2 separate regions of the Homo sapiens genome follow, and region 1 is linked to region 2. Evidence: fine-mapped expression QTL. Tissue or cell type: whole blood. Region 2 holds a variant in brackets; the other region holds the start of a gene. All regions are shown on one strand. Distances are between the middles of the regions.

Evidence for each region. PIP is the estimated chance that this variant, and not a neighbour inherited with it, causes the effect.
Region 1: it holds the start of APBB1IP, and the variant in region 2 is fine-mapped to the expression of APBB1IP in whole blood (TOPMed, PIP 0.90).

What each region holds. Positions count from the first base shown.
Region 1 is chr10:26,433,620-26,441,726 of GRCh38, forward strand. It overlaps APBB1IP (amyloid beta precursor protein binding family B member 1 interacting protein), which reads left to right and starts at 4,722. Exons shown (of 15, transcript NM_019043.4): 1 at 4,722-4,836; 2 at 5,033-5,234. RefSeq lists enhancers at 4,039-4,568, 4,286-4,415, 4,976-5,055.
Region 2 is chr10:26,537,116-26,545,222 of GRCh38, forward strand. It overlaps APBB1IP (amyloid beta precursor protein binding family B member 1 interacting protein), which reads left to right. Exons shown (of 15, transcript NM_019043.4): 11 at 4,467-4,577. Among named protein-coding and RNA genes, the nearest start is that of LINC03028, 38 kb to the right of the region's middle. RefSeq lists an enhancer at 3,636-3,705. The variant A/G (reference allele first, on the strand shown) is at 3,294.

The sequences.
Region 1 (8,107 bases), 100 kb before region 2:
TCCTTGCCTCCCCCGCTCTTCTCCCTCTGCCTATATCTAGTCCTCTGAATCTCTGGCAAACTACCTTCTAAATGTCTCTCAGTTTCACCCATTTCTTCGCATTTCCGCTGCTGCTGACCTAGTCAAAACAATTATACAGTTGACCCTTGAACAACATGGGTTTGAACTGCATGGGTGCATTTATACTTGGATTTTCCTGCTGCTTCTGCCGCCCCTGAGACAGCAAGATCAACCCCTCCTCTTCCTCCTCCTACTCAAGTTGAGTAACGTGAAGATGAGGATGAAGACCTTTATGATGATCCACTTCCACTTAATAAATAGTAAATATGAGGTCAGTCACAGTGGTTCATGCCTGTAATCCCAGCACTTTGGGAGGCTGGGGCAGGAAGATCGCTTGAGGCCAGGAATTTTAGACAAGCCTGGGAAACATAGCAAGACCCCATCTTACAAAAAATTATTTAAAATAAAATTAGCTGGACATGATGGTGCATGCCTATAGTCCCAGCTGCTCAGGAGGCTGAAGCAGCAGGATCCCTTGAGCCCTGGAGTTTGAGGTTACAAGGAGCTATGATCTCACCACTGCACTCTAGTCCAGGAACAGAGTGAGACTCTGAAAATAAATAAAAAATAAATACATAGAAAATATATTTTCTTTTATGATTTTGTTAATAACAGTTTCTCTAGCTTACTTTATTGTAAAAATACAGTATTTAATACATATAACATAATATGTGTTAATCGACTGTGTTATCAGTAAGTCTTCTGGGCAACAGTAGACAATTAGTAGTCAAGTTTTGTGGGAGTCAAAAGTTATACATGGATTTTCAACTGTGCAGCATTTTGGTACCCCTAAAACCTGGCATTGTTCTGTTACAGTAGGTAGCTAGTCAGGCATGAGCAGGGCAGGAGAGGGCTCCCCTCACCCCCTACCAGGAATGTCAGGCGACTATCAGGTGGTGGTCAGGGGACTGTTAACCGTGTCTCTAAAATAATAATTGATCACAGCCAGCACCAGGGAAAGGCAGTCTCCCAATAGATAGAAACACCTGAAACTGGTGATCAACAGCTTCCAGATAAGATCTCAGGAGTTGGGCGAGTGGGCTCAAGCATGTGCACTAAGAGGTAAAATGGTGGAGTTTAACTGGCAAATGACCTTCCAGGGACATTTGGTAAGGGAAGAATGCCTAAAGTGAACACGCGTACAACTTCAGTAAACACACTGCGCATGCTCACCTCCCAAGTGCTGGCACGCCACTGCTCATGTGGACAGCCCACTCCATGGGAAGAATCAGGAGGAGGAAGACAAGACCCCGAAGTATGTCAATGCGTAAAGCCCCAAGTCAAAAGTCAAACAGCGCACTTCTCTCAAGTCACCCGCTTGGCCCTCTTCCAAGTATAATTTACTTTCTTTTGTTACTGCCCTACAGTTTTCTAATAAACTTTCGCTCCTGCTCTAAAGCTTGCCTTAGTCTCTTCTTCTGCCTTATGCCCCTCAGTTGAATTCTTTCTTCTGAGGAGGCAAGAATTTAGGTCGCTACAGACCCATATGGTTTTGCCAAAGCTAACATATTTTGGTGCCGTGTCTCAGATATATTCTGCTGCTGGCAGTTCAAAGGCCAATTGTATTTTCTTTCCCAACTTAGCTCAGAAGTCTTCCTGCATCTATTCTTTTCTTCATCTGATCCGTTCCCCAAATTATGCCAGAGTGATTTTCCTAAAGCATAAATCCCATCATTTGCCAGCTTAAAATATTATTTAATATATTCTCATTGCTCTTAGGATGAGAAAATAATTCTTGACATAGTCCACATGACCCTACATGGTTTGCCCCTACTGACCTTACCTCTAACCAGACCTTCCATAACTCCAATCATACTGGTTTCCATTCAGTTTCTAATCCCTCTGCCACTCCCTTACTCCCATCCCATTTCCCAGCCCACCCATCAGCAAATGCTATTGGTTCTACTTTGCTAGGTGGTTGTTTGTTTGTTTGTTTAAATAGTCTTGCTCTGTTGCCCAGGCTGGAGTACAGTGGCATCATCATAGCTCACTGCAGATTTGAACTCCTGGGCTCAAGCAATCCTCCTGCCTCAGTCTCCCAAGCAACTGGAACCATAGGCATAAGCCACCATACCCAGCTAATTTTTTCCCCCATTTTTGTAGAGATAGGGTCTTGCTATGTTGTCCAGGCTAGTTTTGAACTCATGGCCTCAAGTGATCCTACCACCTTGGCCTCCTAAAGCACTGATATTACAGGCATGAGCAACTGTGCCAAGCTTTGGTTTTATTTTGAAAACTGTATCTTGATTCCAAACTCTTCTCACCATATCTACTGTTAGAATACTAATAAAGCTACTATCATTTTTCATCTGGACTCTGACCATAGTCTACTGAGGAATCTCTCTTCTCTTGCTTCAATCAATTGATTTTCTGAACAATCACCAACTGGCAGGATGGCTTATCGCTTAAGTCAAATCATGCACTCAGTTGCTAAATACATTCCAATAGTCCCCCATTGCAATTAGAATAAAACCTAAAGTCCTCAATGCTGGCTACAAGGTCCTGCTTGTTCTGGTTCCTGCTTACCTCTCTGTCCCCATCCACTATTGCTGCCCTACTCTTTCAGAACATTCCAGGCACACTGGCCTGCCTTCTTTTGAACTTTCTATGTTCCTATCTCAGCCCCTCTTCTTGTTCTTCCTTCTCTTGGAATCCTTTCCCAAGTTTCTGAATGGCTGCCCCTTCTCATTACTTTGTAAAGAGGTGATCCTTGACCACTTTCCCTGCCCCAAGAAAGTCACTCTCATTGTTTGATTTTATATTTTATGTAGCACTTACAACTCTGCTCAGAACCTTCCACTGGCTTTCCATCTCACTCACATCAAATTCTCTTCCACAGCTCCCAAATAGCACACAATCTGGGCACCATTTCCTTTTGATCCCATCTCATGTCTGTCCCTCCCATCTCACTCTGCTCAGCCGTACTAATTTCCTTGGTGTTTTTCCAATATCTTAAGTGCTCTCCTAACTCAGGGTCTTTGAATGTGCTGTTCCTTTTGCCTGGAATATTCCCATCTAAAAACCCAGTGTGGATTAATCTCTCATGCCATTTAGATCTAGCTCAAGTGTCACTTATCAGACAGAAATACCAGTTTCAGGTGTTTCTGTCTATTGGGAGACTGCCTTTCCCTGGTGCTATATTAAAAAAAATTAGGATAAATAAATAATAAATAAATAAATGAAAAATACATTTTCTCTTCCTTATGATTTTATTAATAACAGTTTCTTTTCTCTGGCTTACTTTATTATAAAAATACAGTATTTAATATATATAAAATAATATGAGTTAATCGACTATGTTATCAGTAAGGCTGATAACAACTGCTTGATCATCACCTGATGGTCACCTGACATTCCTGGTAGGGGGTGGGAGGAGCCCTCTCCTGCCCTGCTCATGCCTGACTAGCTACCTACTGTAACAGAACAATGCCAGATTTCAGGAGTACCAAACTGCTGCACAATTGAAAATCCATGTATGTCTTTTGACTCCCCCAAAACTTAACCACGAATAGCCTACTGTTGACCAGAAGCCTTACTGATAATATTAAACAGTCAATTAACACATATTATGTTATATGTATTTAGATAAATACTGTATTTTTACAATAAAGAAAGCTAGAGAAAAGAAACTGTTATTAAGAAAATCATGAGGAGAAAATATATTTTCTATTTATTTATCGTTTATTTACCCTAATTAATACAGCAACCCCATCCCCATGCCCATCACTCTCTATCCCTCACCTTTTAACTTCCTTCAAAACTAGTTACATTCCTTGACATGTTAAATATTAATTTGTTTATTGTCTGCTTTCTACCAACTAGAATGCACCATGCATGAGAGCAGAAATTGTTTCCTCTAACTATTTTCATTGTTCTTAGAAGTGTTGGTGCTTACGAATAGTTTCTCATTAAATAAATGACAGAACTATTTGAAATTGCCTAATTAACACATGCACCTAATTTCTGTCTTTATGTCTTCACCACCTTCCCTGACATATAAGCCTTTGAAGACACAGCTGTAGAGGAGAAGGGGAGGGTTATTCAACCGCATTTACAAATCATAACTGATTTTAACTTCTGTATTTTCAGACCTCCCCAGCGACTTTCTCTCAGGAAACTCCACTCCCAACTGACAGGTGCTATTTCCAGCCAGTCCTATGCTGTTGCAAATAGTGAGTCCATGAATGCCCTCTGCCGTGTGCATTACTTATTTTCATCAGCAGATCTTCGTAACACACTCCTGGAAGTGGGATGACGGGGTCAAAAGGCGAATCCATACATAAGTTAAATAGATATTGCTCAATTCTCTTCCACGGGGTTCAGACCATTTTGGATTTCTACGAGCAATGAAGACAGTGCTATTCCTCTACACCCTGGCCGGCCAACTGAGCGTGGTTAAACGTGGGGAGGGAGGAGGGTGAGGTTACCAACCTGATGGTTGAGAAAGGGCCTCCGCCCAGCGCGCCCTTCCTCCACCCCCACCCGAGAGACAGCTGAACTCCGGCCGGGACGCGCGTGTTGCCAGTCCAGCCCTGCACCGCGTCCCCTGAGGGCGGGCTGCAGGCGGCCGGGAAGCCTTGCACAACCGGCCCAAAAGAGGAAGCCCAGAAAGTGCTGAAGTAAACACTTTGGGAGACCGTTGCAACATAAAGCGGCCTCTCAGTCTTTGGTGGAACCATCACTAGGCCCCAATCCCTTAGTCCCTCTTGCGTCGAGGCTGCAAAATGGTTCCATTCGCCAGGAGACGCTCCTGAGAGAAGGGCGCGCGCGGCACAGGTAGGGGGAGGCGCAACGTTTCCCAGAATTAAAATAAAATAAAATAAAATAAAATAAAAATCCCTTCAAGGTGGTTGTGTAGTAGGGGTGGGATGGGGGAGAGAAAATCAGGCGCAGACTCGATGAGTTGGAGAAAGCAGCCCCTAACTCGGAGTCCTTTACGCATATGTTTGTCTGTCCCACTGTCTCTAACCAGGGGCCTTCCTTGCACCTCGGAGCAAAGCAGCTCGGATAGCGCCACACGTCTGCGCGCTGCGTGGGAAGGGCAGGGCTGACAGCACTTCCTCCCCGGGGCAGCGACCTGGAGCCCGGGTGCGGCAGTCTGCACCGCGCGTCGCTTTCCCGGCCGGAGTCTCGCCGCCTTCCCGCGCCCCGCAGCGCCCCGCAGAGCAGTCGAGGTAAGTGGCGCTCCCAGTCCCGGGAGCCCTGGGAGCGCCAGCACGGGCCCCTCGGGGCTGTCAGGAACCCGTTTGTCAAGCCCGTCGGGTCCGACGCCGGGGGCAGCTCCAGGATCTGGCCTCGTGAACGCGTGCCCCCAGGCGTGGCCCTCGAGCGCAGCGGGTCCCCAGGGTCCCCTCCGCTGATCTCCACTCTGGACCCGGCTCGCGAGGGTGGGGGTGTGAGGGTTTGGGGTTCGGGTTTGCTTTTTCCCGAGCTATTGCAACAGATTTGACAGATTTCCTGCCCAGGAAATTGCTGCAAGGTCAAACGGGGAACTGCTATGAACCCTTGCACGTCCAGCAGGTCAGCAGGTCAGCAGGTCAGCAGGTCCGGGAGCCCCAGTCTCCCGGAACCTGGAGGGATTCTTGAGGGGCCAAGATTAGATGTGGATTAAATGCCAGCCGTGTGAGAATTTGAGTGTGGCTCGCAGTCTGATGCATCTTAGAGTGTTTCCTTCCTCTAAAACTTTTGGACAACTCTTTCCTCTTTTTAAAAATAACTTTTTCCCCCGAATATTCTCATTTTCATTTTAAAATACCATAAAGATAGATTTGGACACCAGGCACAAGTTTCATAATTTGGCTTGAAATGAATATCCAGAGGGCCTTTTACAGAATGGAGGAAACTAACTAGGGTGTCCTAATGTCTCCAAGAACCTCTGCGCAGGTGTTCCACCAAAGACCTAGCCCGGTGTACCTCTTACTTTCCTGCTAAGGTATTTCTTAGTTCATACCCCTGTGGAACGTGAAATGTGTTTCCTAGACACTCAGGGCATAGCGGTTCAAAAGAACTTTTAATGTGATCCTTGACGAGACGGAGTACTAGAGGAAAGTAACAAAAGAAAAGGGCCCGTGAGTTTATTATGCCCCCAGATGTTTTTTTCTGGTGGCATAACGTGGTTTAAACAAAGGTGCCGGTACTAGCTACTATTCATTTTAAAATCTGGGTCTCCAGAGAGAAATTTCAGAAAGGAAAACTTTGTCCTTTTTCATAAACCTAGAGCAGCGATTTTCCCTCTGGCCTCACTGGAATAATGGGTGGCACATGGGCCAGGACGATGATGCTGGCTGGCGAAATTAGCAAGGATCTGCTGAGAAATACTTTATAAAGTCTTCTAGTGGTATTTCCTGTCTGCTCAACGTGTGTTGTGAAAGGTCTAAGAAATTTAACTTCATCCTTAAACTATTAATAATGTGTGTCCTTAAACTATTAATCCTTAAACTATTAATAATTACTAATATTTGGGTTTTTTCTCAGCACTTGGGAGACCTGGGTTCTGGCTCTTATATCTCCCCCATCTAGATAAGGATGATATTGATTAACTTGCATAACTTCTCCCTGGACTTCAGATAACGTCAGTAAAGTGAGATGATTGGGCTACATTATGTCTGTTCTTAAAATAGCAATTGAGGAGTTGCTATAATTCTTTGAATTGGTCCCAACTGGAATACTGGCAACATTATATCAACATTAGAATTGCTGATCACAAATTTTTTAAAAATGGAGAAAATAATCATAACCATAACAGATTACATTCTGAAATATCAATATCTTTGAGGTCTTTTGTTTCTGAGAAGTTCCTGTAAAAGCGCAGTCAATATCTGGCCTATATGTAAAAAGGCAAATTTCCATCTTATTTGAAAACTGAGATAAGAAACAGCCCAAACTTGAACAGGTCAATATTATATTTTGAAATCTTTAAATTGCTATTTCTCAAGAAATATAACTTTGTAATATGAATTACTTTATGGCATTACTTTAAATCTTAAACACAATACTAGGTTTTATAGTATTTATTACATTTTTTGTATTTTTATATCCTAAGAATGTTCACCAGTTATCCACTATTGATTTGCCTTTTTTCACTCATCAATCAAAGTTTTAAATAGTTCCATATTATTATTAGAATGAGCTACTTATAAAGTTCATTGCCATAAATGTCTGTTTGATATGTCACTTTGAATTTTCTTTAAGCCATCTTACTTCCAAAGAGCATTATTATTTTCATTTTCTTCTAATTCTCTTCAATTTTATTTTAATTATTTTTATGCCTAAAACATTTTAGTGAGTCCACAAATCTTATAATAAATTGTCTGCGTTCCATAGCCTATTGGACCACAATCTTTACAATTTTATAGGACCCCATGAGTTTATATTATGGAGACTACGGTGATCTTAGGAATGCTTGCCTCAAAACAGAACAATTTTTATTAACACAACAGGTATCTTCTCAGTATGAAAATGAATGTGTGTGTTTTATGTCACTGCTGTCATCTAAGAGGCAAGTCACTTAAAGCTTAAGCATTTATTATAAATTCATGTACATAATAAATGCCAGATTTTAAAGTGTAAGATTTCTACACTGGTTGCATGGGGATTTTAAAATACATATTACACTTTTAATTATCGTGAGAAACATGACTTTTAGAGAAAACTGCTAGATATCTGGAACAGTAATCATTAGATTTCTCTTGAAAAGAGAGAACTAGCCGCATGAAGGAATGCCATTACACCTATACCCAGTTAAAGAGACTAGATTGTACCTGCAGCTTGGAAGGGCAGACCCTGAGGACAGCTTTTGGGGGACTAGAGGATGTGACCTGCCACCACTGCATCATCATTTCCTAGCCAATTTGTGATCCCAAAATGAGGACTCCAAAGAGGCTGGCTAAATGTGCAGAATATATTAATCTCACTGAGTGGTACCATGGAAATATCACAAGCCCCTGAGATCCCGTTGGCTCCACTGGTCCCAAACCTCAGGCATGAGCAAGCAGAGAGGTGACACCACTCCAAGGCATCACACGTTCTCATTATTCCACATATTCTG
Region 2 (8,107 bases):
TGACCATCAGCTCTCTCTAAGACCTTTCTTAGAGGGTTAGGACCTTTCCGTCTTTTGTTCACCATTAATACATGTCTAATCTGTATCTTGGGTACGCGGAAGCATTTTGCCTTCCCTTCCAAATGCAGGGCACCACCAATGGTATATTCATGCATTGCAATGCATGAATTTACCTCTGATAAAGCTTAACCCACACTTCCAAGCCGATGAAATTATGGTGAACATCCAGGTCTGCTACCTCCAGTAAGGAGACTCTTGTCTCTATCGGAAGACAGGAGGGGCATTATGGCTAACTCTTGGTCCAGGACAGCTACTGTTCTCCTTAGCCTCTTCCACTCTTTTCCTGCCCTTAGATCTGATGCTTTCCCATCTCTGCCATCTCATTCCAGTCCCACACTGGGCACCTCACAACTGACCCACAAATAATTTGTTTTCGAAATGTTTATGTCTTAGGCATTTGAATATAAACGGTGCATATAAATAAACATATAACAAACAATATACTCTGTGATGAGAATTAAAAGTGTTTACATTTGGCTGGGTGTGGTGGTTCATGCCTGTAATCCCAGCACTTTGGGAGGCTGAGGCAAGGTGAATCACTTGAGACCAGGAGTTCTAGACCAGCCTGGCCAACATGGTGAAACGCTACCTCTACTAAAAATACAAAAATTAGCTGGGTGTGGTGGTGCACACTTGTAATCCCAGTAGCTGGGGAGGGTGAGGCACGGGAATCACTTGAACTTGGGAGGTGGAGGTTGCAGTGGCCTGAGATCATGCCGCTGCACTCCAGCCTGGGTGAAAGAGCAAGACTAGGTCTCAAAAAAAAAAAAAAAAAAAAGTGTTTACAGTAGAGTTGGACAAGAATACCTTCTCTCACTGTTACCATTAACACGGGGTTGAGGAACTAACTAGTATATTAAAGAAAAGAATAATAAGTATAACCAATAGAAAAGAAGAGGCAAAGACTGATTTTTCACAGTGTTGTCTATCCAGCAATATGAGACACTCAACTGAAAAACTGTTAGAACCAAATAAATGTATTAACTAAGAAAGTTTTTCTTTACACAAACAATATATATAATGCAAACCATAATGCAAAAGAATCCATGCAGACTAGAAACAGAAAATGCAAAATACCTAACAATAAACTCAGCAAGAAATGTTCCAGATTCATATGGCATAAAATATAAAATGTATTAAAAGAAATGAAGTAGAACTGAATCAATAGAAAGGTACCATGTTGCAGGCCAGGTGCGGTGGCTCATGCCTGTAATCCCAGCACTTTGGGAGGCCGAGGCGGGCGAATCACGAGGTCAGGAGTTTGAGACCAGCCTGTCCAACATGGTGAAACCCCATCTCTACTAAAAATGCAAAAATTAGCCAGGCGTGGTGGCGGGCGCCTGTAATCCCAGCTACTCGGGAGGCTGAGGCAGAAGAATTGCTTGAACCCAGGAGGCGGAGGTTGCAGTGAGCCAAGATCATGCCACTGCACTCCAGCCTGGGGCGACAAAGTGAGATTCCATCTCAAAAAAAAAAAAAAAAGTAGAAGATAAAGAAAAGAAAGGTACCATGTTGCTAAAAGAAAAGTTATTAATTCTTCCCAGTTTTCTATAAATTTAATATAATTTTAATAAAAATATCAGTAGGATTTTATTTACTTGAAATTCACAGACTGATTTCATGGAAAAAAGACACTGTTCCAAAATAGACCTTCCCAAAATTGTGAAGAACATCAAGGTAGATCTCCTGCTGTGCCAAAACATTAGATAAAAACAGCACAGCTAGAGACAAACAGGTCGACAGACAACCGTCTAATATCAGAGAAGTTAAAGTTGGAATTTATATCACAGCAGTGGGGAAAGAATGTGGTATTCAACAAATAGAACTGAAATAACTGTATATCCATTTAGAAATATAATTTCCTACCTCATTCCATGTACCAAACTAAATTCTTGATTGATTAAAATATCTTTAGAGAAAAATAGTATAAAATCCTAGAAGAAAACAGAGGCTGGCTGGGTGCGGTGGCTCATGCCTCTAATTCCAGAACTCTGGGAGGACCAGGTGGGAGGATAGCTTGAGCCCAAGAGTTCAAGACCAGCCTGAGAAACATAGGGAGACCCTGTCTGTACAAAAGGAATAAAAAAATTAGTGGGGATGGTGGCACATGCCTGTAGTCCCAGCTACTTGGGAGGCTGATCCGGGAGGATCATTTGAGCCCGGGAGGTCAAGACTTCAGTGAGCCATGTTCGTGCCACTGCACTCCAGCTGAAGTGACAATATGAGATCCTGAAAAAAAAAAAAAGAAGGAAAGAAAGAGAGAGAGTGAAGGAAGGAAGAAAGGAAGAAAGGAAGAAAGGGAGGAAGGGAGGGAAGGAAGGAAGGAAGAAAGGGAGAAAAAAAAGAAAATATAGGTTAATGTTTTTATAATTTTGAGCTGGAGAAAGGTTTCCTAAGCAAGAATAAAAACTCAAAATTATAACGGAGAAAAATGGCCAGATTTGACCTGATAAAGTTATTTTTAATACCTTATGGCCAAAGATAACAAACAAGAAGTGAAAGACTGACTACAGTGAGAGAGTACATTTGCAACATGTATAAACAAGTATGAATATCCATAAAATATAAAGACTTCAAGAAATCAATAAGAAAAAGATAAACATACAGAAAAATGGCAAAGCTTTTAAAGGGAAAATTTACAGAAAAAGAAGTACCGGTAACCACCGCATAACTAAAAGTTGCTCCGTCTCATTACTGATCAGGGAAATGAAAATTAAGCATGAGATTGATAAAATAAACAATATAGATAATATCCAAATTTTGGTGGAAGTGGGTAAGAAAAAGAGACACTCACGCCTGGGAGCTTGGAATAGAAACTCATACGGCCAAACTGGGGGACAATTTAGCAAAATCTATGTACATGTAACAGGGAGTAAAAATCCTTTCAAATGGCAACTCCATGCTTGACGAATCTATCTCACAAAAATATAAGCTCACATGCACAGTATTTTTTGTAATAGCTAAATATTGAAATAACTTCTAATCATCTGTAGTAGAATAGTTAAATAAATCGTTACACCTGTACCGTAGAATTCTCTGCAGCCATAAAATGAATGTCATATATTAATTCATGTCTTGATGTAGAAAGACTCCTAGATGCAATGTTAAGAAAAAGAAGGCGAGGGGCGGTGGCTCACTCCTCTAATCCCAACAGTTTGGAAGGCCAAGGAAGGCGGATCGCTTGAGCTCAGGAATTCAAGACCAGCCTGGGCAACGTCATGGGATAGAACAGA[A/G]TAGAATACTACCAAACTATTAACTATGGTACCTTTGGAGAAAAGAACAAAATAAGAAAAAGGGGTGGTGGAGGAAGATGTGCATTTTATTATTTATATATATATATATTTTAAATGTGACTAATATGCATTCGTTTGTAACTTAAAAATGTAAACTTTGAACATCCAGAAGAAAATATCTTGTAAGAAAAGAATACAAGCATATGTAAAGAAATAATTGTGCACTAAGGTGTAAATAGTTCTGCCATCTATTCTTTATTCACTAACTAGTAAAGAAATATAGAAAGCGAAACAAAAAACTAATGGAACACATTTGTAATTGAAGTGTAACCAAATATGTAGATTACAGGCTGCAGTCTTCACAGTGCCTGTTATCCGTGGAGGAGAGGTCTCTGTTTCCATGGCAACACTGCCTGCAGTAAAGAGAACTTGTGAAAGAAATCCTTTTTCTCAGGAGGAAGTGCATGAAGTGTGTGCTGATTTACTGAGCATAAGTTTATCTCTCATTTTTCGTCCTGAGGGGGACTTTTTTTTTTTTTTAATGCTCAATCGCAAAATCCATCACGGACTTAGAATGGCAAAAGTCAAAATGAAATTTCTGGCTAAGCGGTCACCTTGTCTCGACTGCATCAATAATGACATCTCAAGGACAGTCCATCCTGACTCTGGGAGTCCCCAGACAGGCATTAGAACAGCAGTATAATCTTTCACTCCGTTTCTGGGTCAGTGGCACCGATTTTCATGGCTGCACTCTTTTTAAAAAATTAATTTTATTTTTTGATTGACAAATAATAATTGTACATATGCATAACGTACATAGTGATGTTTTGATACATATAATGTATGGTGATCAGATCAAGGTAATTAGCACATCCATCATCTCAAACATTTATCATTTCTTTGTGTTGGGAACATTCAATATCTTTCATATTGGGAAAGATTTATGTATAGATCTTACTAAATTGTCCCCCAACTTGGCCATATCAGTTTCCATTCCAACCTTTCAGACTTGCCTTTGAGAAAACCTATACATGGCAGATGTTTATATAAATTACCTAAAAGTCAATATTTTCTTTACTAAAATATAATCCTTAGTTGTGCTATGAAGGACAACTCTGGAAAATTGTTAACTGTCATCTCAGTTGAAGTTTTATTTTTTTCCCTGTCTTTCAGACATCTCGAGATCTGGCGTGTTTTATACAGTTTGAAAATGTCAACATTTACTATGGGACTCAGCATAAAATGAAATATAAAGCGCCCACTGACTATTGCTTTGTTTTAAAGGTATGTTATAAGAAGTCATTCATTTAGATTTATAAGCAATTTGAGTTAATTTTTTTTCAAGGAAGAAAATGTTAAATTATAGTTAGCCATATGTGTAACAATAAGAAATTGTTTAACCAAAATAGGAATGAGGGAAACATTTCTATCAATTTGGGACATTTTCCCCAAAGCCTCCTATCTGAACCTAAAACTTTAAGGTAACTCTGTCTGGGGATTTCTTCACTTCTGAAAATGAAAGTTCCACATTTTAAACAAATTAATTTATAATGTTATCGATAAGACTAAAAAAAGTTTTCAGTTCTTATTGGGCTCATTCCACCATAAGAAGATTTTAGAAATTAGAAACTTGCAAGATTTCCTAGACAACTTATAGAAAATAGCCAAAAAAAAGTTGTTTTAATTACTGGGTCATGAAACTTCAGGTGTATATTGTCAAAAGGCAATAGGTATTATCAAATGTTAGATATGGTTTACATTTTTTTGAGACCGAGTCTCACTCTGTCACCCAGGGTGGAGTGCAGTGGCTCAATCATAGCCCACTGCAGCCTCAGCCCCCCAGGCTCAAGCAATCCTCCTGCCTTAGCCTCTCAAGTATCTGGGACTAGAGGTGTGCACCACCACACCAGCTAATTTTTGTATTTTTAGTTAAGATAGGGCTTTACCATATTACCCAGGCTGGTCTCAAACTCCTGGGCTCAGGCAATCCACCTACCTTGGCATCCCAAAGTGCTGGGGTTGCAGGCATCAGCCACCACTCCTGGCCGATTTACATTTTTTAAAATTAGAATCTCAGATCAGTCTGATCAGGAGATGGGTTATTACAACCACACATGTGATGCGTTACGGGTCTTTCTGTATGCCTGCAGAACTCTGGATTAAGGACTATGGTAAGTTTTTGTCTGCGTTTCTTTTTAGTCAAATGCAATAACCAGGTGAATTCAATCATATTTAGTAATTTTGACTCCCTGAACAATTACAATCACTTATTATAATCATCAAATAATAATTGGTTGAAATTCTTGGCTTTATCAAGGACTCAGGATATTCAGTGACTTTCATTCAGATGTCCTAGCCTTTTTTTTTTAATTCCTAAGCATCCACTTTTAATTATTTACAGATAATATTAATAATAAAAACCACTATACTAGCTCAGTCAGCCTGATACTCCCCCAGTGGTTCTCAACCAGGCATTTTGCCTCCAAGGGTCATTTGGCGAACCCTAAAAACATTTTTGATTGTCATAGCTTGGGGCATGGAGCAGGGACTACTGACATCTAGTAGGCCAGGTATGCTGCTAAATACCTTGCAGTGCACAAGAAAACCCCCACACCAAAGACTTCTCTGGCCCCCAATGTCAACAGTGCTGCTGTCAAGAAACCTGCCCTAGACAGAAGAGCCCCAGAATAATGACTGTGAAAGCACTGAAGGCCGGGAGAAGGCTGGATCCGTTCACTCACTCATTCATTCAGTCATTTAATGTTTGTTGAATGACGGCCGGGCACGGTGGCTCACACCTGTAGTCCCAACACTGTGGGAGGCTGAGGCAGGCAGGTCACTTGAGGCCAAGGACTCTAGACCGTACTGGCCAACATGGTGAAACCCTGTCTCTGCTAAAAATACAAACAGTAGCTGGGCGTGGTGGTGCACGCCTTTAGTCCCGCTACTTGGGGGGCTTGAGGCAGGAGAATCACTTGAACCCGGGAGGCGGAGGTTGCAGTGAGCCGAGATCGCACCACTGCACTCCAGCCTGGGCGACAGAGAGAGACTCTGTCTCAAAAAAAAAAAAAGAAAAGAAAAAGAAAAAAAATGTGTTGAATGACAACTATTGTTGAGTGACAAGGATTATTATTATCATTATTATTTTCACTGCCGCATTCCCATCACCTGGAATAGTGGTGGGAATGCGGCAATTAAAAAAATACAACAATCCCTGTCCTCATGGAGTTTACATTCAACATGAGGAAAATGGCAAAGAACAAAAAAATATGCAATGTGATGTCAAGTAGTAACAAGGAGCAATATGAGGTAGGGCTGGGGCCAGGGCTCCTTTGGATGGGGTGTTCACAGAGAGGCTCTCTAGGAAGTGACATTTGACAAAAGATGTGAATGAGGTGAGGGAGCAAGAATTATCTGCAGTACGAGCCCTCCAGGAATAAGAACAGGAATTGGAAAGCCCTGAGGTGAGGGAGGTCTGTTTGTTCCGAAGGAAGAGAGATGGGGAGCATGCCCTGCCTGATTCTGCTCCTCGCCCCTCCTTGTCTGTTCCTGATATAGGAAAAATAAGAATAATGGCAAGCACTTATATGGCATTTTCTTTGTAGATGTGGTATGTGTGCAGAGAGACTCCCCAGCCAGGAAGTGGCCAAGTCAGAATGAGAACTCAGGCAGTGCGGCTCAGAGGCCGTTCTCTCAGACAGTTTCTCAGGCCCCCAGAGATCTGGACACAAAGCATCGCCCACTACCCTGTCCCTCCCACAATGCCACCTGCCCTTGAGTCACATCTTCCCATGTCTGGAATCCTAAGACCCTGATAAATTACCAAAATGGAGCATTCCAACACACTTTATTGCCAAAGACTTGTCCACACTTCTTAAATCAGGAGAAGGTTTTGGAGAAATTTTCTGAAACACTGGTCAGTAAACTGGCTGAATCAGTCACTGGAGACTCTTTACAAATGCAGGTTCCCAGGCCCTAGGCCCACTAAATCAAAATAATGATGGAACCTAGGGTTAGGGTTAGGGTTTAAGGATGGAGCCTAGGAATCTTCATTTTTCCTAAGCATGGTCAAGTTTTCTACTGAGTGTTAGAACTCACTCTAACCATCAGTACTCATGGCTTAGCTGGTGATTAAATGGCCTTCAGAGTGGGCAGACAGGATGAAAGTCTAGCAGAAGGAAGCAGGAGCCAAACCCCAGGGCTGGGGTCCAGAAGCCAGAGCAGGGGTGTCTGTCAAGAAAAAGACAAGGTCTCTGACAAGAGGTTCCCAGCATGGGGATTTAGACACAGTGAACAGGGGAGGGACTCAGTTTCTCAAACTGACACATAAGTTTGGGACTAGGACCTACAATTGGCAGGACTTGAACGGTCTGACCTAGAACATGAGGTTATCCTGAGATTACACCAAGAATAGAAATCCTAAGTCCCAGAGTATTGAACCAGAATTTCTAAAACTTCCTGCTATCCAAGGTCTAGGTCTACAAGAGAGAGTTGAGGATCTCCCCAAAGGAGAGAGGGGGCTCAGAGGTGGAGAAACCAGCAGGACTGATGGATCTGGGAGCAAGAGTCATGAGCAACCCTTGCAGAATGTGTATTTCCTTTTCTCTCAGGATGATGATCTGTTCTGTTCTAAAGCCAATTTCCTCATGTGCAATCACCCTGCTCATTTTGTTCTTAAGCATGCTTCTCAGTTCCCTCCCAAAATATTGAGAATTCTTATTAATTTGCTGAGTAAAAGGATAACTGTTGAGGTTTGGAGAACCTAATTTGTTTATGAACATTGTGGTCACTTATTTCCCTTTTTGTCTGCTGTT